Regions from separate parts of the Homo sapiens genome. Here region 2 is linked to region 1. Evidence: fine-mapped expression QTL. A gene starts in region 1. The other region holds a variant in brackets. All regions are shown on one strand. Distances are from middle to middle.

Region 1 (15,253 bases):
ACTAGGACCTTGTGGGACAAGGATCTTGGTTTGCTGACTCCTGATTCAGGGCTCTTCTATAATAGCTCATAAGAACTCTAACTGAAAAGATTTCTCATGGTTAAAGGAGGATAACCCTTTAGAGATACACATGAAATCCACACGCATGTACTGAGCAGAGTCAGAGGGAATTTTTTTGTTTTTTTTTTGAGACGAAGTCTTACTCTGTTGCCCAGGCTGGAGTGCAGTGGCACAATCGCCACTCACCGCAACCTCCACCTCCCAGGTTCGAGTGATTCTCCTGCCTCAGCTTCCTGACTAGCTGGGATTACAGGTGTGCGCCACTACGCCCAGCTGATTTTTGCATTTTTAGTAGAGATGGGGTTTCACCGTGTTGGCCAGGCTATTCTCAAACTCCTGACCTTGGGTGATCTGCCCGCCTCAGCCTCCCAAAGTGCTGGGATTACAGGCATGAGCCACCGCACCTGGCCAGAGGGAATTTAACATAGGGAATAAATAGTCCCATAGGTATTAGAGGACTGAAGACGTAAAAAGGGGATATCCCAGCAACACAGAGATAGTAGCTGCAGGGAACATTTCCCACACCTAGGACTAGAGAAGAAGGGGAAGCGGGTGGGACTGATAGAACTTAGAGGTTCAGGGAAGAGGCCTCGAAGAGCTGAGCCTCAGACTTCAAGAAGGGACCGCGGCCCAGATGGGGCCAGGACCTCTGAGCTTGGAGGAAGCATGCACTAGAGGGAACCTTGAAGCCGGTAGGAGAGGCGTCCTGCTCCTTCCTGTTTGCTGGTTGTCCCTGTTTGTGGCATCCACAGTGGTTCTTCACCCTGGCAGTGGTGACTGGTTTCATTTCTTTTTTTCTGCACTCCCAGAACAAGGCTCATCATGCCTCCTACTGGCAGAACCTAACAGGAAGCTGCAGGGGAAGAAGGTGGTTTCCAGCATCTCAGCAGGAACCTGGAAGCTGAGCGTAGGAGGGTGGGTTTGGAGCTGAGACAATACCTCATAACCAGCACACCACCTGACTGCAGGAATTGCCAGAAATTCAAGTGCCATTGTTTCCAGAGTATCCTGATGTGTGACTTTTTTCCCCGTCAGGAATTCCCAGCATCTGACGGTTTGTTGGAATTTTGTTTGGTTTCTGTTTTGTTTGCGTACATTTCATTCATTTAAGTCGTATTCTTTTTTTTTTTTTTTTGAGATGCAGTCTGGCTCTGTTGCCCAGGTTGGAGTATGGGTGGTGCAATCTCAGCTCACTGCAATCTCCGCCTCCCGGGTTCAAGCAATTCTCGTGCCTCAGCCTCCCAAACAGCTGGGATTACAGGAACCTGCCATCACACCCGGCTAATTTTTGTGTTTTTAGTAGAGACGGGGTTTCACCATGTTGGCCAGGCTGGTCTAGAACTCCCTACCTCAGGTGATCCATCCGCCTCGGCCTCCCAAAGTGCTGGGATTACAGGCGTGAGCCACTGCGCCCGGCCCATATTCTTTTATTAAAGGTTAATTTCCTAGTTTATACCAGTGTCTATTTCACCATATACTTGTCATCACCGGGTGCTCCTTTCTTTTTAAGCTAAAAATACTCTTTGGCACCAGTTGTGGGTCTCTAGCAAAGCAGAAACTGCCACTTCGTGGTTCCTTTCCACCTTTCTACCTGTATTTCTTTTTTTTTCTATTTCTTTTTTTCTTGATACAGGGTCAAAAAAGGCTAGAGTGCAGTGGCACGATCACAGCTCATTGCAGCCTTGACCTCTCAGGCTCAAGTGATCCTCCCACCTCAGCCTCCTGAGTAGCTGGGACTATAGGCATTCACCACTACCCCTGGCTAATTTTTAAATTTTTTATAGTAGGGCCTCACTATGTTGCCTAGGCGGTCTGGAACTCCTGAGCTCAAGGGGCTAGCCTCCCAAAGTGCTGAGATTATAGGCATGAGCCACAGTGCTCAGCCTTGTATTTCAATCTAAGATACCATTACTTATAAAATGAACCATTATTTTATATACCACTGATAAAAGAAAAACATTTCCAATTAAACTATGACACTTTTCTAATCACTTACTTTTTAAAAAGTTACTAAAAGAGCTTTTAGATTTAGACATATTTACACAGATATGTTTATTTACTTAGAAAAATATAAGCAAAATAGGTCGGGGCAGTGGCTCACGCCTGTAATCCCAGCACTTTGGGAAGCCGAGGTGGGTGGATCACCTGAGGTCAGGAGTTCGAGACCAGCCTGACCAACATGATGAAATCCCGTCTCTACTAAAAATACAAAAATCAGCCGGCCGTGGTGGTGCCTGCCTGTAATCCCAGCTACTCATGAGGCTGAGGCAGGAGAATCGCTTGAACCCAGGAGGCGGAGGTTGCAGTGAGAAGAGATTGCGCCACTGCACTCCAGCCTGGGCAACAGAGTGAGACTTCATCTCAAAAAAAAAAAAGAAAAGAAAAGAAAGAAAAATATAGGCAAAATAAATTGATTCAGGGATTCCTAAAACTTCTTTACATCCTCATCCTTTTGAGTAACACTTTAACTCAGTCAACAACCCATACTTTTCTATGCAACTTTGTCCTTTGTGCCATCAAACATGTTGGTGATACAGCATTAAAAGAAAAACAAAAACAAAAAACAAAAATTCAGCTGGGCATGGTGGCTCATGCCTATAGTCCCAGCACTTTGGGAGGCCGAGGCAGGCAGATCACTTGAGCTCAGGAGTTCGAGACCAGCCTGGCCAACATGGTAAAACCTCATCTATACTAAAAATACAAAAATGAGCCAGGCGTAGTGGCAGGAGCCTGTAATCCAGCTCCTTCGGAGGCTGAGGCAGGAGAATCTCTTGAACCTGGGGGGCGGAGGCTGCAGTGAGCCAAGATTGCGCCACTGAACTCCAGTCTGGGTGACAGAGTGAGACCCTGTCTCAAAACAAACAAACAAACAAACAAACAATTCATAAAAGAAACTAAAAGCCATTGGTCTGGGCCCTTAAGCAGACTTTGAAATTATGGAGAGCTTTCCTGTTTTTAAAAGCCTCTCAAACTTTCCCTTACTTGCTCTCCATTCAATTCAGGGGTTAAAAAAATGTTCTACTACTGTCTCTGGGGTTTCCTCTGAGGTTGCTGATGCCCCTTCTTTTTAATTGCATTTTTATTTTTCTAACACCTACCTCTTACACAGAAATGATGCCCCTTCTGCATGTTTTGATGCCGGCACAGGTGTAAGCAATGAGAACTATGCCATACCTGCCTCCTTGCCAACAGTTGATAACCACAGACAGGAAGACACTGATTTCAGGGATGAGAAGAAACAGGTGTCTTAGAAACACGGTACTCTCCACTCATCCTCTGGAATCCTTCTATAACCTTCAGTCCCTGTATTCTCTGGGTCCACACATGCCTTCAAGAGCTATGTCAGCCTCCTTGAGGCTTGAGGGGGAAAAAGTCACTCTGCTTTTCTCTTCTCTCATTAAAAACAACAAAAACTAGACTTCCAAAGCATTAAACATGTAGGGAGCTTAGAGACGCTGTCCAGGATGAGCTGACCAAAGCAGAAGCAAGGCTGTTTGTGACTTCAGCATTTCCCCCAATTAGCCACTGCAAAGCCACCTCCCAGCACTTGGTCCAACCTTAATCAACAACCACTGTTTCCTTTGCCTTCTGGACAGTTTCCTGGATAGACTGACGTCAGTCTGGCTCTATGTTCAAAGTTAGAAAATAAAAGTAGTTTGTTGCAATAAGGGCTAAGATTTTAAGATATAGCATAAGAAATACTGAGTTCCAGTCCAGACTCTGTTCACTTCAAAGCAGTGGCTCACACCTGTAATCACACCTGTAATCCCAGCTCTTTGAAAGGCTGAGGTGAGTGTATTACCAGAGTTGAGGAGTTCTAGACCAGCCTGGCCAACATGGTGAAACCCTGTTTCCACTAAAAAACACAAAAAAGTTAGCCCGGAGTGGTGGTGCATGCCTGCAGTCCCAGCTACTTGGAAGGCTGAGGCGAGAGGATTGCTTGAACCCAGAAGGCAGAGGTTGCAGTGAGCTGAGATTGTGCCACTGCATTCCAGCCTGGCTGACAGAGTGAAACTCTGTTGCAAAAAAAAAAAAAAAAAAGAAAAGAAGAAAAGCTAGGGCAAATTGTACCACTTCTCTATTTCTTTTTAATTTTTTATTTTTTTGAAATGTGGGGTCTTGCTATGTTGCCCACACTGGCCTTGAACTCCTGGGCTCAAGCAATCCTCCTGCCTCAGCCTTCCAAAGTGCTAGGATTACAGGTGTGAGCTATCATTTCTGGCGGCAAATATTTTTATCTCATTTACCTGATCATTTAGAAATGTATCTCCAGGTCTTGAGATAACATTTGCATTGAAAATTCTCAGTTTCTCAGTTTTAGGCATTCTCTATTGAGTTCCCACAAGGAAAGATGATTTAGCTTCTTCTCTCCCCCAATTCCTCCCACCATCCCCTATCACATACCCAATACCTTTCTCATTACCCCCAATAGAGTTAAAATCTCTTTTTAGTAAACATTCAGTGTTCATATAATTAAGACTATGTCAATCCTATTCACAACTCTGATAACATTTTGGTTCTCAGTTTTCCTTACTTTTCATTTCCCTGCAGTTAATAATTATTTGCTTAGTTTTCTATGTACTTATACCATTTCATCAAAGAGCTGCTATTCCAATTCCTCAAAATTTGATGTTTAAAGGCATAAGATTTAGTCAAAACCTTGTTCATTGAAATATTGTCCCTAGGCCGGGCACAGTGGCTGACACCTATGATCCCAGCAGTTTGGGAGACCAAGGCGGGTGGATCACCTGAGGTCAGGAGTTCGAGACCAGCCTGGCCAACATAGTGAAACCCCTTCTCTACTAAAAATCCAAAAATTAGCCTGTAATCCCAGCTACTCGGGAGGCTAAGGCACGAGAATTGCTTGAACCCAGGAGGCAGAGTTGCAGTGAGCAGAGAATTGCAGCACTGCACTCCAGCCTGGGCAACAGAACAAGACTGTGTCTCAAAAAAAAAAAAAAAAAAGAAAAGAAAAGAAAAAAGAAAAGAAAAAAAGAAATGTTGTCCCTAATAGTGAAAAAGTCAAAGCAAACCTCAAAAAGAATACAGCTGATTAATAAGTATTGATACATATACAAAACTGAGCCTTCAATTTCTGTCATTATATCTACCTGTAACTCTATCATATTTTAGAATGAGCATGCACTTTTGTAATCAGAATATAAGAACATTTATAAAGTAATAGGAGAAAAGTAACCTGAATCATATTAGGTTGGTGCAAAAGTAATTCCGGTTTTTTGTCATTACTTTTAATGGCAAAAGCCGCAATGACTTTTGCATCAACCTATTACTATTTTTTTTGCAGTTATTTATACGACCAATCGGATTTTTAAAAACAATTTTATTTAGTTGCTGGGAACAAGTCTGATTTTCTTTTCTCCTCAGCTATACAAGGTTGGCTTGTAGGGCAATCATCTTAGATATGTCTGAAGAGATTCGAATTTGAAAGAAGGAAAACCAGAAGTTTCATACTTCTAAAGGAAAACGTTTTCAGAAAATGAGTGAAAAGGAGTGACTACAAAGGAAGCATTCGCTTATCTCAAAGCAAATACTAAATTACAGATTCCTCTCAGCGCTCTACTGGTGAAAAAATTTAAAAATAAATAAATAAATTACAGACAGTAACATGCTTCCATTTCATCCCGACAGCTTCAGGATGGCGCAGTCTCCAATGGGACAAACCCAGGGAGGCGTGACTCGGCCACAGCGCGTTCTGGGAAGGCCGCTTAACCAATCAGCGCCTTGGTTTCCAGGGGTCAGGTCTGCATAAAAATGCTGCCCTTTCCGTTCCTATAGTGGTGTGATGCAGAAACGCCGCGACAGAATGGGGTTATCTACATTAACAGCGCGCGGCCTTCCAGGCTCCTAAATGGACTTTCACAAACACCCTCCATCAGGCCAGGCCCGCGGGTGTGACCCGGGCAGACACAGGCTGCCCCCACACTTCTGGACTCTGTGTCAGGGCGCACACGCTGACAGCATGGCTAACTTTCTGGGGGCCGGGGACATCTGGGAGAAGCAGAATGAAACAGAAGATCGATTCCCTAGGTCCTAGGAGATGAAACGCCACCTTTGCGGGTTCGCGAGTCCTTAGGATCAAAGCTGGGCTCCCCAGGGCCGGGGCCGCTCGCCCCACATCCTCATTCCAGTCCCCATCCCCACCCTATCCCCGACTCTGCCCCAGGCCCAGGCGGGAACCACGCACCGAAACGAGCGGGACGCGCAGGCGATCCCCTTGCAGCCGGTTGAAGGCGGGGAACGTGCTCCAGGCGAGGAACCCGTCGCTTTCGGGTCCGAGCAGGGCCACGAGCAGCACCTGGTGTTGGAAGCGCACGGTCGGCTGCTCCTCGTAGCTGCTCCGCTTCAGCCAAAACCCTGAGTTAAAGAGGGCGGTAGGGAGGCGGTTAGGGAGGCCGGCCCTGGCCGAGCGCGCCCGGGGAGCCTCGTGGCACAGCGGCCGGGGCAGGCTCACCGTGGCTCCGGAAGGCCACCAGCAGCGGCGGGATGTACGTGAGCGCAGCGGCCAGCAGCAGGAACAGCGCGGCTTTGGAGCAGAGCCCCGCGCGGTAACTGCGCTCGACCGGGTGAGAGAAGAGCTCATAGAGCGCCATGAGCACCGCTCGCAGGCACTCCGCGAGCCGGGGGACCAAGTTTGGCTTCTCCTGGTTGCCATCGCCTCGGTCTCCACGGCAACCGACGGCTCACAGAAAGGAGCCAATAGCAAGGCCGCACCGAAAGGAGCCAGTGGCGGGGGCGGGGTTAGCGGGCGTGGCGCTGCCGGGGACGGTCGGCCTAGCTTTTCGAGCTGTGTACGTTTGCGTAAAGGCTGGGCGGCGATAGAACGTTTCCGTGGACCAGAGTCGTGGCTGTTGTCTGTGTTAACATTTGTGTAAAATAAGATGCCCATAAAAGTTGACTTGAACACTGAGGAGGAAGAACTAAATATTTAAATTTCAACTGACATGGACACAAACAATGGTCACCAAGTCCCTAAACAGGTTGTGGGAGCCCCTTGAGGCGTTCATCCAGCGCTGTTTCGGAGAAATCTCTATTTCAGTCTACTCCTATACGTCAGTTATTGAAAAACAACAATCGCAAAAACAAGTTGACCTTTTTGTGTTCCTTGAGCCCAGTCGCAAAGGGCCCTCGTGACTGGGCCTCATGCTAGACAACATGTTACAAAAAGATCTAGGGTCCCAGACCACGCCAAAAAGCTTCATGAGACCTCTCCTCGTCTGTGCACTGACGAGTGGCCGGCTCTGGAGCCCAGGTCGTTGCTTCCCAGTCTGGAGGTGAATCCTCCATAGTCTGGTGAGTGTAAATATATATATATATATGTCTTTTTCCTTCTCCTCTTCCCATTGCAATTTGCTTATTATATCAATCTGCTTATTATATTAATTTGCTTATTATAATATCTGCATTGCCATTTACGTGGGATAAAGCTTGCTTACCCTTAAAGGTACTGTGTGTGTGCCTTTTCTTCTCCCCTAGCGCGTCTCCCGCACAGAACGAACACCTGCTTTTGTGTCATCTGTTAACCCCCAGTGTGGTTCCTACTGAAGTCCAGTCAGTCACAAGCCTGGCCGTGGTCCTGGACCTGGTCCTGGGCTGAGATCAAAGCCAGGTGCTTTTGCCCCCAGATTTTCTGTTGCTTCCACTATGCTCCCATGCAAGACAGACACGGAAACACAAATCCCCTGGCTCTTCCACGGATAGAGTGGAATTACTACAAAGCTCTGATGCACTTCGTTAACCCTGTGTTGGGTACAGCTCAGCCGCGAGTTTTACAGGAATATATGGTCCTCCCCAAAGATCACTGGCTTATTGCTTAATTGAATGCCTACACCCCCCCGCCACCACCCCCAACCAATATTTCTAACATGGTAGAAGGACTTTTTAAAAAAATCTATGGTCCACAGCCAATTTCTTCATCAAATGGCCCTGAATGGCTGGGCACGGTGGCTCACGCCTGTAATCCCAACACTTTGGGAGGCCAAGGTGGGCGGATCACCTGAGGTCAGGGGTTCAAGACCAGCCTGGCCAACATGGTGAACCCTCATCTCTACTAAAAATACAAAAATTAGCCAGGCATGGTGATGGGCACCTGTAATCCCAGCTACTCTGGAGGCTGAGGCAGGAGAATCGCTTGAACCCGGGAGGCACAGATTACAGTGAGCGGAGATCACACATTGGACTCCAGCCTGGGTGGCAGCGAGACTCCATCTCAAACAACAACAACAACAACAAAAAGGTCCTGAGTGGCTGAGCACAGTGGCTCATGCCTGTAGGTCCAGCTACTCGGGAGGCCTGGGCAGGAGGAAGGCTTGAGCCCAGGAGGCTGCAGTGAGCCATGAATGCACTACTGCACTCCAGGCTGGGAGACAGAAGGAGACCTTGTCTCTAAAAAAATAAATACAAAATATTTAAATATAAGTAAATTTGTTAAAGGGTCAGTAAAATGACATTTAAGTGGAAAGACATGATAAGCTTTGTGATTTGGAAAAGTCACTCTAATGACAGCATGTCAGTAGTGTAAACCAAAATGTATCTGAGACAAGTCTCAATCAACGTAGAAATTTATTTTGCCAAGGTTAAGGACATGCCTGTGACACAGCCTCAGGAGGTCCTGATGACATACGCCCAAGGTGGATAGGGTATAACTTGAGTTTATACATTTAGGGAGACATAAGACATCAATCAATACGTGTAAGATGTACATTGGTTCAGTACTGAAAGATGAGACAAGTGGAGGTGGGGTGGGGCTTCCAGACCACAGAATTGGCAGATTCAGAGATTTTTCCAATTGTCAACTGGTTATTATCTAAAGACCTGGAATCAATAGAAAGGAATGTGTGGGTTTGTGGGCGGGGCACAGTGGCTCACGCCTGTAATCCCAACACTTTGGGAGGCCAAGGCAGGCAGATCACTTGAGGTCAGGAGTTCAAGACCAGCCTGGCCAACATGGTGAAACCCTGTCTCTACCAAAAATATGTATTAAAAAAAAAAACATTAGCTGCATCTGGCGGTGTCCACCTGTAATCCCAGCTACTTGGGAGGCTGAGGCAGGAGAATTGCTTTAACCCGGGAGGCAGCAGCTGCAGTGAGCCGAGATCATACCACTGCACTTCAGCCTGGGTGACAAAGTGAGACTCCATTTCAAAAAAAAAACAAAAACAAAAAACAATAAGGGGTTGTGGAGTCTAATGTTTTATCATGCAGATGAAGCCTCCAGGCTTCAGAGAGAACAGATTGTAAATGTTTCTTATCAGACTTTAAGAGTCTGTTCTATTAATATCAGTCTTAAGATCTATGTGTTGATGCTAATACTGGTCAGCTGGGTCTGAATTCCAAAAAGAGGAGGGTATAATGAGTTACGTCTGACTCCCCACTTCCCATGATGGCCAGACTAGTTTTTCAGGTTAACTTTGGAATGCCCTTGGCTGAGACAAGGGTTCCATTCAGATGGTTGGGAGCTTAGAATTTTATTTTAGGTTTACAGTATACCAGGATGGGGTCATTGAGTGAGGGGTGAGGAAAAACAGAAGTCAGGGAGACCAGTCAAGAGGCTGTTGAGGCTGGGTGAAGTGGCTCATCTTAGCACTTTTGTCAGAGGTGTTTGAACCAAAGCAACTCCATCTCGAATAGGGGCTAAGTAAAATAAGGCTGGGACCTACTGAGCTGTCTTCCCAGGAGGTAAGGCATTCTTAGTCACAGTATGAGCTAGAAGGATGGCACAAGATACAGGTTACAGAGACCCTGTGGATAAAACAGGATGCAGTTAAAAAGAAGCCAGCCAAGGCCGGGCATGGTGGCTCATGCCTGGAACCCTGTCTCTACTAAAAATACAAAAATTAGCTGGGCATGGTGGCGGGCACCTGTAGTCTCAGCTACTCTGGAGGCTGAGGAGGGAGAATCAGTTGAACCCGGGAGGCGGAGGTTGTAGTGAGCCGAGATCACGCCATTGCACTCCAGCCTGGGTGATAAGAACGAAACTCTGTCTCAGAGAAAAAAAAAAAAAAGAAAGAAAAAAGAAAAAAAGCCAGTCAAAAGCCACCAAAACCAAGATGGCCTTGAGTGTGACCTCTGGTCGTCCTCACTGCTCATGATCTGCTCATTGTAATGCATTGGCATGCTAAACGATACTCCCACTGGTGCCATGACAATTTACAAATGCCACGGCAATGTCCGGAAGTTACCCTATATAGTCTAAAAAGGGGAGGGACCCTCAGTTCTGGGGAAATCTCTGCCCCTTTCCTGGAAAAGTCAGGAATAATCTACCCTTTGTTTACCATATGGATCAAGAAATAACTATAAATTTACTCAGTCGAGTAGCCCATACTGCTGCTCTGTCTATGGAGTAGCCATTTTTTTTTACTCTGTGGACTTGCCCCAAATTCTTTCCTGTGTTGAGAGCCAGGAACCCTTTCTTGGGATCTGGATTGGGACCCCTTTCCAGTAACACTTTGGGATGCTAAGAAAGGAGGATTGCTTGAGCCCAAGAGTTAGAGGTTGCAGTAAGCAGTGACTGCACTACTGCACTCTAGCCTGGGTGACAGAGCGAGAGCGAGACTGTCTGAAGAAAGGGAAAAAAAAAAAAAAGCCCTGAAGGATCACATTGCAGTGTCAGGAGATGGCGTGAGGTTTGTGCTGGGTGGAGTCCAGTAGTTACTCCCACTACTTTGAAAGCAACCTCGAAGTGGCTTTTAGATGAAGAGAACAGCTGACATCCTAACATCACAGACTTAATAGAGAGGTCAAGACTGCCCATTTGGGAAAACCATCCTAGGGTCCTTACTACAGTCCAAGACGACAACGTCATCAGCCACAAAATGCTTTTGAAATATCAGGTTCAATACTACTTGTTCTTGATTAAAAGCTTTTCTGGGGTGGCAATGTAGTTTGTTGTTGTTGTTGTTTTTATACAGGGTCTCCCTCTGTCTACCTCCTGGGCTCAAGTACTTGTCCTGCCTCAGCCTCCTGAATAGCTGAGGCCACTATTCCCGGCTAATTTTTAAAAAAATTTTTGGCTGAGGCAGGACAATCACTTGAACCCGGGAGGTAGAGGTTGCAGCGAGCTGAGATCGTGCCACTGCACTCCAGCCTAGGCGCTTCCATCTAAAAAAAAATTTTGTTTTTAAGTGACAAAGTCTTGTCATGTTGCCCAGGCTGGTCTCCAACTCCTGGGCTCAAGTATCCTTCTTGAGTAATCCCAAAGTGCTGGGATTACGGGTGTGAGCCACTGTATCTGGCCTCAACATAGGTTTTTGTTCGTTTTTGTTTTTTTGGTGGAGATGGGATTTCGCCATGTTGCCCAGGCTAGCAGGTTGATCTCATATTCTGGGGCTTAAGAGATCCACCTGCCTCGGCCTCCTGAAGTGCTGGGACCACCACACTGAGCCTCAACATAGTTCTTAAATATAGCAATTGTTAAGGTTAAATCTATGGTTTGATTCTGACACACTATATCTATGCTTTAAGTGGATGACTTTCTTTTTTTGAGAGAGAGAGTTTCACTGTTGTTGCCCAGGCTGGAGTGCAATGGTGTGATCTCGGCTCACTGCAACCTCAGCCTCCCAGGTTCAAGCGATTCTCCTCTCTCAGCCTCCTGAGTAGCTCGGATTACAGGCACCTGCCACCACGCCCAGCTAATTTTTTGTATTTTTAGTAGAGATGGGGTTTCACCATGTTGGCCAGGCTGGTCTCAAACTCCTGACCTCATGATTCGCCCACCTCGGCCTCCCAAAGTGCTGGGATTACAAACGTGAGCCACCACGCCCAGCCGACTTTCATTTATTTATATAACCACAGGGGTCTTCTGGAATAGATGGATCTAGGGTCGACTCCTGAGAGTCACTATCCTGTGAGGAAGGAAGTGTTTGCCTCCAAAGCTCCTTCTTTCAATGGAAGGAAACAGATACTGTACCAAAGTCACTCCTGAAACAGAAGGAGGTGACTACTAAGAATTTAGGTGTACCAAGTGCTTCAGCCTTCCCTGAGATGCCATGAACTTTGCAAAAGTATTTAGTAATAATGGATACTATTTACTCTTTGCTTCCATGGTTTGAGAAAGCTCGTTTTGTAGTTTTATTTCAATTCTTTAAGAGAAAGTATAGATTTAAAAATGTTAAAGATCTGTGTATATGTGTCATTTCCATACACCCATGACTGATAACTGACTTCTCAGTTTCCACTTCCACAATGTTCTTGTTTTTCATACAATTTATTTCTGAGGACAAAAAGAGTCATCCTCTTAAAACTGCACTTTTTTTTTTTTTTTTTTTTTGAGATGGAGTCTTGTTCTGTAGCCCAGGCTGGAGTGCAGTGGGGCGATCTCGGCTCACTGCAACCTCCGCCTCCCGGGTTCAAGCGATTCTCCTGCCTCAGCCTCCTGAGTAGCTGGGATTACAGGCGCTCACCACCACGCCTGGTGAATTTTTTTTTTTTTTTTTGTATTTTTAGTAGAGACGGGGTTTCACCTTATTGGTCAGGCTGGTCTCGAACTCCTGACCTCATGATCCGCCTGCCTTGGCCTCCTAAAGTGCTGGGATTACAGGCGTGAGCCACCGCACCTGGCCACATTTTTTTTTTCTTGAGATGGAGTCTCACCCTGTCGCTCAGGCTGGAGTGCAGTGGCACTATCTTGGCTCACTGCAACCTCCACCTCCTGGGCTCAGGCGATTCTCATGCCTGCAGCCTCCTGAGTAGCTGGGACCACAGGTGCGTGCCACCATGCCTGGCTAATTTTTGTATTTTCAGTAAAGACGGGGTTTCACCATGTTGGCCAGTCTGGTCTAGAACTCCTGGCCTGAGGTGATCCACCTGCCTCGGCCTCCCAGAGTGCTGGGATTACAGGCATGAGCCACTGCACCCAGCCCCAAATTGCACATTTTAATCATGTTCTTCTCTCCTTTATAGGAGCTCTTATTCAGGGTCTCCTGAATTAGGTTAGAACTTCTGAATGTTTGCTTCAAAGCTTTCCAACATTTTATTTACTTATCTATACTGCTTTTCTGTTCCCTCTTCCAACCCCAGCCTTTGTTTTTATCTGGAAAGGAAAAGTTTACCCAATGAAAATGTACCCTTCTCTCTACAACAGAAGATTCACATTCTCTGTGAAGTCTTCCTTGCTAATTCTCACTTGGCTTTGTGCTGGCCCCTATTGCCCTAGCAATGCCTCAGTATCCATGTTCACATACCTCTCCAACATTTGAAATTCATTCTCTGTGTTTTATAGATTTGTTAATGTGTAATTACGTTGCATATATTCATTATCCTATTTCTCCTCCTGACTTACGTCCTTAACTAACCACTCCCTCAAGGAAGGCATCCAGTGTCCTTAGAACATTCCATAGCTAAATACAATGACCCAATATGTAAAGAAGGTGGTACATATCATCAAGGTGGATGAAATAAGTCAATTAGAATGGTGAACTGGGAAAACACACCAAGAAAGTAGGTAAGGATGGAAGACCAAAATGCATTGCACATCATTGAGACCATCAAAAGACATGTCTATGAATTGGTGTGCAGTGAAATTTTCCCCTAAGAAGTGTTCTCAGCTCTTTCACATGCAAGACAATATACATATATTTTGGACTAGGATGCAATGACCAGCTCTGTAAAGGGAAGCAGGGGTGTTGAGTCCAATTTCTAACTCCTCCACTGGTTCACTGACTAGGAGATGGTGAACAACCATCTTCATTCTTCAGTGTTTAATTCTATTTGTAAAATAGGTATTTTCTTTTTTTGAGACGGAGTTTCGCTCTTGTTGCCCAGGCTGGAGTGGAGTGGCGCGATCTCAGCTCACTGCAACCTCTGCCTCCTAAGTAAAAGCAATTCTCCTGTCTCAGCCTCCCAAGTAGCTGCGATTACAGGCATGTGCCACCATACCTGGCTAATTGTTTTGTATTTAGCAGAGACGGGGTTTCAACACGTTAGTCAGGCTGGTCATGAACTCCTGACTTCAGGTGATCCACCTGCCTCGGCCTCCCAAAGTGCTGGGATTACAGGCATATGCCACTGCACCCGGCCAAGTATTTTCATTTTTAAACTCACTGTCTACCTAATCTTACCCAGTTTAATAGCTTGAAATATTTCTCTCTAAATTTGAGACTCATAGCACCATTCACCAACTCTACATCTTCACTTGTGTATGTCCCTTGGACATCTCATATTTAATATCTCAAAAACCAAACTCTTGTTTTTCACTCCCCAAGCTGGCTCCACCCTATTTCAGTAAATGGCAATTCCATCCTTCCAAAAACCTTGATTTTGATCTGTCCCTCATGTCTTACATCCAATCTATCAGCAACTGTTACCAGTTTTACCTTCGAAATATATCCAGAATACAACTGCTTCCCATCACCTCTGTAGACCCCACCTTGGCCAAAGCCAACATCATCTTTCACCAGGATTATCACAATAGTGTCTCAACTATTTCCCTGCTTCCACCCTCAGCGCCTACAGTCTACTAAGCTAGCCTTTTGAAAAGGAAAGGCAGATTGTGTTACGTCTCTGCTTAAACCCCTACACTGACTTCTCATCTCATTCTAAATAAAATCCAAAGCTCTTTGCATGGAATTCAAAGCTCAACACAGTTTTGTTCTAGATATCTTTGAATTTGTCTCATAACACACTCTCCTCTCTCATTTATTCAGCTCCAGCCACAGGGGTTCCCTAGAATATGCCAGGCACTTTATCTAATTAGCATTCCATCCCACCACACTCTCTAGTCACCTACTGTGCTTTATTTTTCGAAATAGCACCTATCATTACCTAACATACTTATTTTTTGTCTTATCCCACTAGAATATGTCAGGGGGACAAGAATATCTCATGCTGCCACCCATGAGAATAGGGATGTCATCTGTCTTCTTCACTGTTTTTCCCCAGCACCTAGCACAGAGCTCTTGTATGTAACAATAATTTCTAAGTAGGAAATTCAAAGGATTTTTTCCACTTCATTAAAAACAAACAAACAGATGCAGTGGCTCACACCTGTAATCCTAGCACTTTGGGAGGCCGAGGCGGGCAAATCACTTACTTGAGGTGAGAAGTTCAAGACCAGCCTGGCGAACATGACAAAACCCCATCTCTACCAAAAATACAAAAATTAGCTGGGTGTGGTGGTGTGTCCCTGTAGTCCCAGCTACTCAGGAGGCTGAGGCAGCAGAATCGCTTGAACCCAGGA
Region 2 (15,253 bases), 220 kb after region 1:
TGTCACACAGGTTAAGAAGCACATTTATATTTTCTTCCACTTCCTTGGTGCTCTATGAAATGAGCTGTAATATAATCTAAAATCAGCTTTTGGTATTATAATATTGTTTGAAATTTGATAATTCAGGTCTAGTTAACACTGATAAAATAGTTCCATGTTCCAATTTTATGCTAGAAGGATCATTTTCTGGCATCTAGTAATTACTAATGTGTTTTTCAGGGTCATTCTTTTTAAGTAAAATTAAAGAGGTAGAGCACAAAAACTGGAAAATAGAAGGAAGTTGTGCCCTCCTGGAGGAAGAAAAAAGCTCTCAGTTCCCCAAAATCTGTGGCAAAATCAGTTTCATGAGGACCCATTGTATATCCATGAAGACCTTTTTATGTAGGAGAGGCAGCCCACTGTGTACACATGTCTCCTGGTGAATCCAATGTGCATAGTTTCAGCTGACTTTGTTCCATCAAGTATGATTTAAACATTTATTTTCAGAGTGAGAGCCAAAGTCATTTTGCTCCAGATTGAAGTATAGTACTTTTTCAGTTCCATAAATGTTTCATATGAAATATTTTTTAGGATAAAAATTTCTATTTTATGTGAGTTTAACTTGCTCTTCAGAATAGTCTCAAATGTGCTATAGGATAGTGGCACATGGATGTAGGGGTCACTGCTCAGTCTTTCCTACTCCTTTGTCCTCTCTAAGTTGGCATCTGGTACTGAAGGACTTTCAGCATTTCCGAGCTCTGAGCGCCATAGGGCTGATATTTAAGAAGCTTTTGGGACTCAGTTTGTTGATGTGGAGTGGGAGAAGTAGCAGTGAGTGGAGGAGAGTGGAGGAGAACGGAGGAAAGTGACATCTATTCTTAATGGAGGGGAGGGTCAGGTCAGACATCAGGAGATACCAGGGAGGGAGTAGCCCTAAGGGGAATTGTTTTGGGTTCCCCAGCTGCCTGGATACTGGCTCTTCCCTCTCTTCTACTCCTTTCCCAGTCAGGTTCACTGTGATTGAATTTTTTTCGGACAGGTTTTAGTTTTATTTCTCTTTTACCCTAGACCCAGATTTGAGAGCTGGCACTATCATGACCCTGGCAGATTGTTTTTCTATTCTCCTTTTTATTGAAGCGTCCAACTATTAAGTTTGAATAGTCTCTTCCTTTAATTCGGTGTATTTTTGCTTCATGCATTTTGGGGCTGTGTTGTTAGGTACATACACTTTAATTATTTTTATATCTTCTTGATTAACTGACACTTTTATAATTATAAAATATCCTTCTTTGCCCTAATAATAATTTTTATCTTAAAATATTTTGTCAATTTTGCCTGGCATTAATATAGCTACTCCAGCTCTTCTGGTTATTGCTGGTGTATCTTTTCCATCCTTTTATGTTCCATTTATTTGTGTCTTTAAATCTTAAGTGTCTATTGTAAATAGCATATAATTGTGCTGTGTTTAAAAAAATCCATTCTCCAAATCTCTTCCTTCTAGTTTGACAGTTTGATCCACTTACTTTAATATAATTACTGATAAGATAGAATTATTTTTTGCTATTGTGCTATTTGTTTTCTATATGTATTATGTCCATTGTATTCCTCAATTCCTTGATTCTTGAATGCTTTTGTGTTAAATAGATATTTTATAGTGTAACATTTTAATTACCTTTCATTTCTCTTAAAATATATAATTTTAGTTATTTTATTAGTGGTTGCCCATGGTATTATAATTAATATTTTAAAGTTTTAAAGAGACAGTGTCTTGCTCTGTCAATGAGGCTGGAGTGCAGTGGCAGGATCATGGCTCATTGCAACCTCAGGCTCCTGGGCTCAGTGATCTTCCCACTTCTGCTGCAAGTAGATGGGACTATAGGCATACGCCACCATGGCTAGCTAATTTTCAAAAATTTTTGTAGAGACGAGGTCTCCCTGTGTTGCCCAGGCTGGTCTCAAACTCCTTGCCTCAAGTGACCCTCCTGCCTCGGCCTCCCAAAGTGCTGGGATTACAGGGATGAGCCACCATGCCCAGCCCAATATTTTAATTTATAACAATCTAGTCAATATAATACCAACTTAATTTTAGTAGTATACAAAAGTTTGCTCCAATGTAACTCTGTTTTCTTCCTTTTCTTTTTACAATTTATTCTTATATATGTTTTTAAGAGATGGGGTCTTGCTGTATTGCCCAGGCTGGTCTTGAATTCCTGGGCTCAAGTGATCCTCCTGCTTCAGTCTCCCAAAGTGCTGAGATTACAGGCATGAGCTACCATGCCCAGCCTACCTGCCTTCTTTATGCTGTTATTTTTACAAATTAGATCTTTATTGCTTGTGTACCCATCAACATAGACTTATAATTACTGGTTTATGTAGTTGTCTTTTAAATCAGATAGAAGAAAAGAAAATAACTATAAACAAAAATCATTTATGCTGTCTTTTATATTTAACCATATAGTTAACATTTACCAGTACTCTTTATTTCTTCATTTGGGTTTGAATTACTGCCAAATAACTTTCATCTAGGCCTAAAAGAACTCCTTTAGTATTTCTTGCAGGACAGCTGTGCTAGCAATGAATTCTCTTGGTTTTTTAAAAAAAATCTGGAGATGTCTTAATTTCCCCTTCAATTTTGGAGTATAGTATTGCTCTATATAGACTCCTTGATTGACAGTCTTTTACTTTCACTGCTTTGAATATGTCATCCTATTGTCTTATGTTCTCTTTTCCTTGATTTCTAATGGGAAACAGCTATTAATATTACTGAGAAGCCATTGTATATGAATCATGTCTTACTTGCTGATACCAAGTTTTTTCATCTTCATTCTTTAAGAGGTTGATTATGTTGTATTGAGGTATGAATCTTTTTAGTTTATTACACTTGAAGTTCATGTGTGCAAACCAATATTTTTCAACAAATTTGGGAAGTTTACAAGCATTATTTCTTCAAATATTGGTTCTTGACATTTCTCTCCTCTCCTTCTGGGTCTCCCATTACATATATATTGGTACTTTCAGTAATTTCCCACAGGTCTCTGAAACTCTGTTCATTTTTCTTTGTTCTTTTTCTTTTCTGTTCCTCAGACTGGATAATTTCAATTGACCAATTTTGAAATTTGTTGATTTTTTATGTCTTTTCATATCTGTTACTGAGAACCTGTAGTGAATTTTTCTTTTCTGTTATTAAGCTTTTCAATTTTATAACTTTTATTTTAAAGTTGAATTTTATAATTTCCATCTCTTTATTGATGTTTTCTGTTTGGTTAGACATTGTTCTCATACTTCTTTAGGCACACTCTCCTTTTGGTCTTTGGGCATATTTAGACTAAATGATTTAAAGTCTTTTCTAGTAAGTCCAATATCTGGGCTTCCTTTAGGACAAATTCTATTGATTGTTTATTTTTATGTATGTGTGTTGGCAGTACTTTATTTCTTTGCATGACTTATAATTTTTTACATTATTGAAACCTGGACATTTTAATAGGTATTATGTGGCAAGTTTGGAAATCAGATTTTCCTACATGTCCATGGCTTGTTTTTATTGTTGCTTATTGGTTATTGTTACCTGTTTGCGTACTTACGTTTCTTTTTTTTTTGAGACAGAGTCTTGCTCTGTTGCCCAGGCTGGAGTGCGGTGGTGCGATCTTGGCTCACTGCAAGCTCCGCCTCCCGGGTTCACGCCATTCTCCTGCCTCAGCCTCCTGAGTAGCTGGGACTACAGGTGCCCACCACCATGCCCAGCTAATTTTTTTGTATTTTTAGTAGAGACAGGGTTTCACCATGTTAGCCAGGAAGGTCTCGATCTCATGACATTGTGATCCACCCACCTCGGCCTCCCAAAGTGCTGGGATTACAGGCATGAGCCACCGCGCCCGGCTCTTACTTACATTTCTAAGGCAATTCAGTAAAGTTTGTATTCTTTGTCATGTATGGGCATTGATGCCACTACTCAGTTAGCTTAGTGGTTAGCTAGTAATTAGACAGGTTTCCTTAGAGGTCTGGAATCAATAAATCTTTCATTTGCTGAAGGGCTCTCTGTGCATGTTGGGTCATGTCCTCAAAACTTAGGCAGCTTGTAACTCCATCTAAGCCTTTTCTTACTGCCTACATAGATCCTCAAGGTAAGCAGAGATGAGAGCTGAGGGCCTTTCCAGGTCTTCCCTGAGCTTGTGTACTATCCTGGGAGTACACATGGTCATTTAGATCCCTGAGATTTTGTCAGAGCCTTCTGATGTCCTTCTAGACATCTTATTTTCAAACTTCTATTTTATTTTCAAGGTTTTTGGTTAGTCCTTTGTTTGCCTCAGCTGTTGTTAATCTCCTCAGGCAGCCACAAAGTTAAAACACTTGCCTGTAATTGTCTCCAAAAATAACATCACCTGACAGAAATCCTCTGAAGTGAGTGAGCTCCAAGGCAGCCTCTTAATGAGTTTTTCAAGAGAACCACCAGACAAATAAGAAATGATAATATTGGCTGGGTGCAGTGGCTCATGCCTGTGGTCCCAGCACTTTGGGAGGCCAAGGCAGGTGGATCACGAGGTCAGGGGATCGAGACCATCCTGGCTAACATGGTGAAACCCTGTCTCTACTAAAGGTACAAAAAGCTGGCTGGGTGTGCTGGCAGGCATCTGTAGTCCCAGTTGCTCGGGAGGCTGAGGCAGGAGAATGGCGTGAACCTGGGAGGCAGACCTTGCAGTGAGCCAAGATCGTGCCACTGCACTCCAGCCTGGGCGACAGAGCAAGACTGTGTCTCAATAAAAAAAAAAAAGAGATAATATTTTGGGAATTATACTTTGAAAGAGCTTCATCTCTATTCTGGTCCCACTGATGACTGCTAGGCAGCACCAGCAATGCAGATGAGTATTTTTCAAGGCTTTTTCTGAGCTAGAGAGTGGGGGGTGGGACCAGGGAAAGTTAAAATGTCACAAAGCTAACTTTTCTTACAGCCATCCAGCCATTTTTCTTGAGTAAACTCTCCCCAGGTCATGGGAAGCTTTTAATTCTTTTTTTTTTTTAAATTTCTACATCCACTTCAGTCACACAAAATCTTTTGATTCATTTCTGGAGATCTGAAAAAGGTAATTCTGACCATTTAAATAATTTTTTCATTGCTTTTATGGAAGGGTGAATTTTTGAGGGTCCCTGCTCTGCCATTTTTGCTGATGTTACCACCATCAAGATTTTCTTCAGCAGGGGTCTGCAAATCTTTCCTAGAAAGGTACCAATTGTAAATGCTTTAGGTATTGTGCTTCAGATTGTGTTTGTCACAGCTACTCAACACTGCCATTGTAGTACAAAAATAGCCATTGTAAGTATATAAATAAATGGCTGTGTTTCAATAAAACATTATGTATAGAAAAGTCACAGACTGGATTTGGCCCAAGGATCATATTTTGCCAACCCCTCTTTTTAAAGATAAAAAACAACCTTAGAATCCTTCTCAGACCACACTGCTCTTTAGTCATCTTCTTTCTGTTCTCACAGAGGTTGTTTTTCTTCCAACTGAGATACACTAAGATGTTTAAACATTTAAGACATATTTAATTCTGCATTTTTACTATAATTCAGAAAATTTGTTTTTGTTGCTTTCAATTTTTATTTACATTTCCCCCCTGAATTTACATTATTACTGCAACCAGAGAACCAAATCAAAATAAATTGATTCATTATCCTCCAGAATATGGGTTATGTATTAGATTCCAAAGGAAGTAAAACAAGTTTAAAATATACAAAGTTTCAATTAACTTTATTTTTGTAGAGTGTAGAACACTGTCTTACTTACATAAACTATCCAGTGGTTAAAAAAAGGTGCTGATCAGGAAATGGAGAGTGAATGGGAGCATTAATGGGAATATGTAGAAAGAAATCTTACACTAAATAAAATATCCAATAGAAGCTTTGATTGGAGACCACAAGAGGCCATATATCTTTTGAGTCAAAGAGAAAACTCTTGGGGTTAAAAAGAATACAGTTAATTTCTATATCACTGATATATAGTAGATTACCAAAAAAGGTAATGCAGAGTGAAAAATAAATTCTAATAGAATCCCAGTGAACTGTAAGGTAGGAGGTATCTTATCTCTAGGTAGGTAGCTGCTTACCAGGTATATTTTGATGACTACTAAGAAGAGCCTGTAGATGTCCTTCTACTTCAGCTCTTCCTGTGATTTCATAAATACTTATTTCACAGGCCTTTTCCTGATGAGTAAAATAATGCAATATATGTGTAATTTTTTGCTGTCTATGATCATCTTCTTCCTGATTCCTAGTTTGATTTAGACTTCCAAGAAGTTAGAATGTACAAGACATTGGGTCCCAGTAGAAAGAAAATGACAGATGTAAGTAATGGTGAAAAAAAGGGAAGTAAAATGACATTAGAGGAAGATAATCCCATATCACAATTTTGCCTGTGGTCCTTCTAGTAGTTGAATTTCTTTGTCTCTTAGGTTTGCATTTGCTATCCTTGTCACTATCTTCTTCTCCTTCTCCTCCTCTTCTTCTTCCTCCTCCTCTTCTTCTTCTTCTGAAAGAAAGAAAGAAAGAAACATGGCTATATAGTGTTGGAGCAGCCCTTCCACTGAAAACAACTATAAAAGAAGGAAGAACTATGAGTTTTTGATGGGATAGCAGAGCTACCAAAGCAGTAAAGATTTGATGAAACAAATTCCCAGAAAGAAGGTAATCCTAGGATTTGAGCTCAATATTTGGCATAACTTATATCTTCAACGCATTTGCTGATAGAGAAAGCAGGAGCTGGAGATTTCAGCTGAAAACCAGAGCAGAAAGCAGTAGCCAGCATCCGAGCAGAACATTTGCCAGTTTCACAAAACTGGAGAGATGAATATTGAAGATCACAGCTAGACAAAGACTACAAATAATGTAAAGTCTTTAATAGTCTTTAACAAACAATGTAAAGACTTTACAAATAATGTAAAATGTTCAAGAAATTAAATGATCAAATAGAACATTTAAACAGGAACTGGAATTTTTATTCCAGTAATTGGATTTTTTATTCAATCCAATAAAAAGGATTGAATACCAAGTCTAGAACTGAAATATGCAGTAACTGAATATTAAAAATTCAATGGATGAATTTAACAACAGATTAGATGTAGCTGAA[A/T]TGAGAAAATTAGCAATTTGGAGGATAAATCTAAGAAATATACCAATAGAGAAAGGAAGAGGCAAAGTAATGGAAGATAAAAGACCAAAGAGAGAATGAAAGGTCTAACATATATGTTATTATAATCCTTGAAAAAGAGGAGAGAAACCATAAAAAAGAAAGAAATCTTGTATCTGAAAATCTACATGCTGCTACTATCAAGTTATTTGTTTGTAAGTGTATTACTCTTAAGCTTTAGAGCACTTTACACAAGTTTTATAATACCTTCCAATATTTAAATTTTTAGTATTTTAATGTTAAGTAGATTTTTGTCTTTAACCTATTCTAATTATTTATAGTAGATTAAAAATAATTGCATAATGAAAATATATTGTTTTACATTGAAAAGTCATGGATAATTAAAAAGAATTATAAATTAAACACTAAAATTATTAAAATGCAAAAGTTTCTTCCTTTTTAATTTTTTTTTCTGAGACAGGGTCTTATTCTGTTGCCCACGCTGGAGGAGTGCAGTGGTCCTATCATGGCTGACTACAGCCTTGACCTTCTGGGCTCAAGTGATCCTCCCATCTCAGCCTCTTGAGTAGCTGGAACCACTGGCACATGCCACCATGCCCAGCTAACATTTGTTTTTTTTCATACAGATGGGGTTTTGCTATGTTGTCCAGGCTGGTCTCAAACTCCTGAGCTCAATTGTCCCACCTTGGCCTTCCTAAGTACTGGGATTACAGGTGTGTGCCACCACACCCAGACATTTTTAAAAAATTAAATTAAATTTATTATTTTTTTTTGGTAGAGATGGGGTTCTCACTTTGTTGCCCAGGCTGGTTTTGAACTCCTGACCTCAAGTGATCCTCCTGCTTTGGCCTCCCAAAGTGTTGGAATTACAGGCATGAGCCACCAATCCAGGCCCAGGCAAAAGTTTCTAAATAAAATTTGGCTACATTTTATGTCTGAGTACGTAGAGTTTTGTTGCTGCTGTTGTCATCCATGGTGGGGGGTTAACAACTCACAAAAACTACTACTTATAAAATTATCAGCTATACAATTATTGGACAAAATATATTATTTCACTCTATACATAAACAATTCATTAGAACTTGAAGGAATTGTAGAATATGGAAGAGATGCTTCTGCTGAAATAAGGAGAATGTGAAATACCTCCTCATGGAATGCTGTCATTTTCACTTATCAGTTCCAAATATTAGGAAAGAAAACTCTGAGTAGATTATAGTCTGATACATAATGGCATAATGATAGCTGTTAAATAAAGAAACCACATGTAATTATCAAATTTTGCATGAGTCAGTTGCTTTTCAGTCTCACTAGAGCTGAAATAAAAGTATTTTAAGTCTCTTTCATTTCCCATTTTGACCCTGGGATGTACTCATTTGCCCGGCAAGAAAATTTCCCCTAAATGACTCTAAATGGAGAGATGAGGGACAAAGGGAAAGCAAATACAAAGATATATAACAAATAGCTTGGATTATACATGAAATAATTAACAAGCCAATGTTCCCCAGAACTGGCAATCCACTCACAGAACAAGAATTCACATGTGCATTTGACAAATAATACAACCAATTATGCGTAAGTCTGTGCTAGATCCATTTAGACTCACAGATACAGGCATTTAATGAAATGTGGAAGATATTAGTTGTAACTTCTATCCAAAGCCTAAATCCTGTGGAATATTCCAGGCCCATGGGTAATGGGAATCTACTTGAAAGCATCCAGTGATCAGAAACACACTAGCTCACTTTCAGATGGAGTTATTTTTGCAAAGTTAGAGATAGTGTAATAATACATGCCTCCCTGAAATTTTCAAATGTTGGTCTTTGTTTTCTTTCATGAAGCTATGCAAAAATTGTATAGTTCCTATTTAAAATAGCATACTTTCTGAGATCTGTAAACAGATATCATGATCTTAAGTCTTGCTTTCTCTAGGCCAAATATATTTGCTTTTAAAAATTAATATTCATATAATTCAGTTTTTGGGCAGTTCAATATCTGGCTAACTTTATCCTAGATTCATCCAAGTTTGTCAGCATCATTTGTAAAACAAAGTGCTGACATTTAAACACAATACTCTGTCCAGTTTTATTTCTCTTTCTCCAACTAGATGATAAGATCCTAAAGGAATTGGAGGAGAGGAGACTCCTTGTAATGAACAGAATTAATGAGAATCTGGAAGATCTTGGTAGTAAATTAATGAAGGTCTATGTATTTTTCTCTCAAAATGAAGAAATAAAAATATCAGAAATTTAAACAAAGAAACTGCTTACTTAGTTTATTATCAAAATAAGAATATAGTATAATGTGGCATAATTTTGAATAATCTATGGAGAGGAAGAGTAGAAGCTCCATTTGATTAGATTCTAAGAACGTTCCCCATCAAGGGAGTGTGTTGGACTTCTGAGAAGGAAATCTAATTATAGCACACTGTGGCTCTTGAGAAAATTATACTTACATAGTTATTTTTAAAATTAAGTATGTTTCTTGTGGTTTCAATGAGGTTGAAGTGATGTTTTTCAATCAAAACTAATTTTTTTACCTGTGTATAAGCAAACAAGATTCAATTATAGCTACTTAATGCAAATATCATTTACTGTGTTGATAGACAAGCAAAATTCTACTTGAGAGAAGCTGGGAGGTTGAGGAGGGAGTTGCTGAATTAAAGAAAACGATAGGGTTGTTAATATCTTAATTTTGCATAATGGGGAATAAAGATATATTGTCTGAAGTTAACAGAATAATGACTGTGAGGTATATCTTCTATTTATCAAACTGGTAAGGCAATAGTTATATAAATTTCTCAATCTATAAATAATATAATATAAAATATAAATGTTATATATATTAAATAATATATACAATATTTTTATTATAAATATAATAATATTTATAATATGGGGTATGTTTCTGATGAAGAGAACTGGGAGCAGGCAGATCTATTATCACAGGACTGTGTATTATTTGTATATTTTTTGGTATACTTGTAGTACTTGATAAAATTATATAACATTAAATGAAAAATACACAAATGATTTCAAAACCTAATCAGTTCTGGTTCCAAAATGGCAGTGTAGAAGCAAGCTGGCTTCACATCCCTACCCAGAAAACAAAAAATAAATATACAGTGCTGAGATTATCACCAGCAATATCCCAGAATTCATATATGGGAATGAGACAGTTCCCAGGGCCATGGAGAAGTGGAAAAAATCTGAGTATACAGTAAGATAATTGGACTTCCATATCCACAACACCCTTCCCTCTAATCTGTCTACCACCAAGCCATGCAGGAAATTTCCCCTTGATTCAGGGTTTCTGCACTGGAAAAAGTGAGGTCAAGATGGACCACCAGCTTCCACACCACCTTGATTCACTGGCAGGATAACATAGTGACATAGTGAGACCCAGTTTCTTAGACATAGTGAGACCCAATTTCATAGGGCCATAAAGACCTAGTAACACAGTGACAGTGAGACTCAGTTTCTAAGACAAATAACCCTCACAAAAAACCCCCAAAATATAGAAAATCAACAAAATGGAAAGTTGGAAAGAAAGTTTTAAAAGATACATAAAATTGACAAACATTTAGCTAGACTAAGAAAAAAAGAGAGAAGACCCAAATAAATAAAACTAGGAACAACAAAAGGAGACATAACAACTGAGGCTACAGAAATATAAAGAATCATTAGAGACAATTCTGAATGATATGCGAACAAATTGGAAAAATCTAAAAGAAATGGATAAATTCCTGACCCACCAAGACTGAACCATGAAGAAATGGAAAACCTTAACAAACCAATGATAAGTAATGAGATCGAAGCCATAATAAAAAGTCTCCTATTGGCCAGGCGTGGTGACTCACGCCTGTAATTCCAGCACTTTGGGAGGCCGAGACAGGCAGATCACAAGGTCAGGAGATCGAGACCATCCTGGCTAACACGGTGAAAACCTGTCTCTACTAAAAATACAAAAAATAAATTAGCCGGGCGTGGTGGCGGGCGTCTGTAGTCCCAGCTACTCAGGAGGCTGAGGCAGGAGAATGGCGTGAACCCGGGAGGTGGAGCTGGCAGTGAGCTGAGATCGTGCCACTGCACTCCAGCCTGGGCGACAGAGTGAGACTCCGTCTCAAAAAAAAAAAAAAAAAAAAAAAAGAGTCTCCTATAAAAGAAAAGCCCAGTACCTGATGTCTTCGCTGCTGAATTCTACCACACATTTAAAGAGTAACTAATACCACTTCTACTCAAACTCTTCAAAAAAATTGAAGTGGAGAGAACACTTCCAAACTCATTCTATGAGGTGGACATTAACCTGATACCAAAACCAGACAAGGACATGACAAAAAAAGAAAACTACAGGCCAATATCACTGATGAATGTAGATATAAACATTCTCAACAAAATACTAGCAAACCAAATTCAACCACACATTAAAAAGATCATTCATCATGACCAAATGGGATTCATCCTATGGATGTAAGTATGGCTCAACATATGCAAATCAATAAACATGATACTTCACATTAATAGAACCAAGAACAAAACCCATATGATCACTTCAATAGATGTCAAAAAAGCATTTGATAAAATTCTACATCCCACCAGGCACAGTGGCTCACACCTGTAATCCCAGCATTTTGGGAGGCCGAGGAGGGCAGATTGCTTGAGCCCAGGAGTTCCAAACCAGCCTGGGCAATACAGTGAAACCTTGTCTCTACAAAAAAGACAAGAATTAGCCGAGTGTGGTGGCAAGGGCCTGCAGTCCCAGCTACTTGGGAGGCTGAGGTGGGATGATTGCATGAGCCCAGGAAGTTGAAGCTGTAGTGAGCTGTGATCGTACCACTGCACTCCAGCCTGGGCGATAGAGCCAGACCCTGTCTCAAAAAAAAAAATAAAACAAAATAAAAAAATAAAAATAAAAATAAAGGAAAAGAAAAGGAAAAACGAAAAAAAAATCTATATATTTTTCATGACAAAAGTCCTCAAAAAAACTGATTATAGAAGGAACATACCTCAAAATAATCAAGGGCATATGTGACAGACCCACAGCTAATGTACTGAATGGGGAAAAATTGAAAGCCTTTCCTTTAAGATCTGGAAGAAGACAGGGATGCTTACTTTCACCACTTTAATTCACCATAATACTGGAAGTCCTGGCTAGAGCAATCAGGCAAGAGAAAAAAATCGAGGGCATCCAAATTAGAAAAGAAGAAGTCAAATTAGCCTTATTCACAGATGACATGATCTTATATTTAGAAAAAACCAAAAGACTCCACTGAAAAAGTGTTAGAACTGATAAATGCATTCAGCATAGCTGCAGGATACAAAATCATACAAAACCAGGAGCATTTATGTATGACAACAGTGAGTAATCTGAAAAAGAAAATAAGAAAACAATTCCATTTACAATAGCTACAAAGAATATAAAATACCTAGGAATCAATTTAGTCAAGTGAAAGATCTATACAAGAAAAAGTATAAAAGAGTGATAGAAAAATTGAAGAGGACACAAAAAAGGAAGGAGAGTTCATGCTCATGGATTGGAAGAATTAATATTGTTAACATGGCAATACTACCCAAAGCCATTTACAGATTCAATGCAATCTCTATGAAAATATCAACGACATTCTTCACAGAAATAGAAAAAAACTGCTAAAATATACATAGAACTACAAAAGACCCCGAATAGCCAAAGCAATCCTGATCAAAAAGAACAAAGCTAGAGGCATCATATTATCTGACTTCAAAATATACTAGAAAGCTATCTTAATAAAAACATCTTGGTACTGGAATAAAAACAGACACATGGAAGAATGGAACAGAATAGAGAATTCAGATATAACCCCATATATTTACAGCCAACTCATTTTTTTTCTTTCTTTCTTTCTTTCTTTCTTTCTTTCTTTCTTTCTTTCTTTCTTTCTTTCTCTTTCTTTCCTTTTTTTTTTCTTTTTTTAAATGAGACAGTCTCATTCTGTTGCCCAGACTGGAGTGCAGAGGGGTGATCTCGGCTCACTACAACCTCTGCCTTGTGGGTTCATGTGATTCTTGTGCCTCAGTCTCCTGAGTAGCTGGGACTACAGGCTTGTAACACCATGCCCGGCTAATTTTTGTATCATTAGTAGACATGGTGTTTTGTCATGTTGGCCAGGCTTGTCTTGAACTCCTGGCCTCATGCGATCCATCTGCCTTGGCCTCTCAAAGTGCTGGGATTACAGGTGTGAGACACCGCACCTGGCCTATAATCAACTCATTTTCAACAAAGAAGATATAGTGGGGAAAGGACAGTCTTCTCAATAAATGGTCTTGGGAAAACTGGATAGCCATATGCAGAAGAATGAAAGCAGACCCCTGTCTGTCACTCTATACAGAAATAAAATCAAAATGGATTGAAGACCTCAATATAAGACCCAAAACTATAAAACTACCAGAAGAAAACTTTGAGGAAATGCTCCAGGACATTGATCTGGGCAAATATTTTTTTGTGTAAGACTTCAAAAGCACAGGCAACAAAAGCAAAAATAGACAAATGGGACTACATCAAACTAAAAAGCAGCAAAAGAAACAGTCAACACAACGAAGAGATAACCCACAGAATGGGGGAAAATATTTGCAAACTATGCATCTGACTAGGATTAACAACCAGAATATATAAGGAACTAGAAAAACTCAATAGCAAGAATACAAAATCCAATTAAAAAATAAGAAAAAGATCTGAACAGACATTTCTGAAAAGAAGACATAAAAATGACCAATGAGTATATTAAAAATAACCATCATTGATCATTAGAGAAATTGAAATCAAAACCACAATGAGATATCATCTTAAGGTAGGAGGCAGGACTTGACTCCAGAGGTGGGACTTGAACACCGGACTAGATTGAGGACTAGCTAAAACAGGGCTTGGGTGGAAGCAGCTTTCTAATCAGATTCACCCACTAATGTGCCATATGAATTTACCATTGCCATGGCAACACCCGGGAGTTACTGCCCCTTTCTATAGCAATGACCAGATGACACCAAAGTTAGTGCCCCTTCCCTAGAGATGTCTGTGCAAACCACCCCTTAATCTGCATGCAATTAAAAATGGGTATAAATATGACTGCAAAACTGCCCTAAGCTGCTACTCTCTGTCTAGAAGGTAGCCCTGCTCTGAGGAGGAGTCACAAAGCTGTAACACTGCCTCTTCAATAAAACTTTCTTCCACCTCCTGTTTGTCCTTGAATTATTTCCTGGGCAAAGCCAAGAACACTCTGGACTAAGCCCCACTGTGGGGCTCACCTGCCCAGCTGAATCAATCTTACCTCAGTTACAATGTCTTTTATCAAAAGACTAGAAATAACGGATGCTGGTGAGGATGTGGAGGAAGGCGAACTCTCATACACTGTTGGTGGGAATGTAAATTAGCACAGCCACTTCGGAAGACAGTATGGAGCTTTCTCAGAAAATGGAAAATAGAACTGCCATATGATCCAGCAATTCCACTACTGGAGATATATATAAATGAAAATCAATATTATTGAAGAAATATCTGCACTCTCATGTTTATTGCAGCACTATTCACAACAGTCAAAATATGGAATTAATCTAAATGCCCATCAATGGATAAATGTGGTACATATATACAACAGAATATTATTCAGCTACAAAAAAGAATAAAATCCTGTCACTTGCAGCAACATGAATGGAACTGGAGGTCATTATGTTAAATGAAATAAGCCAAGCATAGAAAGACAAATGTCTGATATTCTTGCCTGTGGGAGCTAAAAAAGTGAATCTCATGGAGATAAGTTGCTTTCAGAGGCCAGGAAGTGCTTATCAGAGGCCAGGAAGAGTAAAACGGGGAAGAGAAGTTGATTAATGAGTACAAACATACAGTCAGATAGAAGAAATAAGACCTGGTGTTTAGACAGATCAGTAGAATGACTATAGTTAACAATAATCAATTACACATTTCAAAATAGCTGGAAAAGAATAATTTTAATGTTCTCAGCATAAAGAAAGACAAATATTTAAGGTGATGGATATTCCAATTACCCAGATTTGATCTTTACACATTATATGAATGTATCAAATGATCACATATGTCCCCAAAATGTGTATAATCTGTTGTGTGTCAATAAAAAAATTGAAAAAAAAAAACAAA

Evidence for each region. PIP is the estimated chance that this variant, and not a neighbour inherited with it, causes the effect.
Region 2: its variant is the best candidate, but not a certain one, in a credible set for the expression of TMEM231 in whole blood (TOPMed, PIP 0.60).

Annotation. Positions count from the first base shown.
Region 1 is chr16:75,549,539-75,564,791 of GRCh38, forward strand. TMEM231 (transmembrane protein 231) reads right to left here and starts at 6,714. Exons shown (of 7, transcript NM_001077418.3): 1 at 6,533-6,714; 2 at 6,266-6,435. The coding sequence starts at 6,671. RefSeq lists enhancers at 641-710, 751-810, 6,925-7,004, 7,035-7,144 and silencers at 6,405-6,484, 6,775-6,884, 10,533-10,827.
Region 2 is chr16:75,765,942-75,781,194 of GRCh38, forward strand. All of the region lies in intron 2 of LOC105371348 (a long non-coding RNA gene), which reads left to right. Among named protein-coding and RNA genes, the nearest start is that of CPHXL, 47 kb to the left of the region's middle. The variant A/T (reference allele first, on the strand shown) is at 7,100.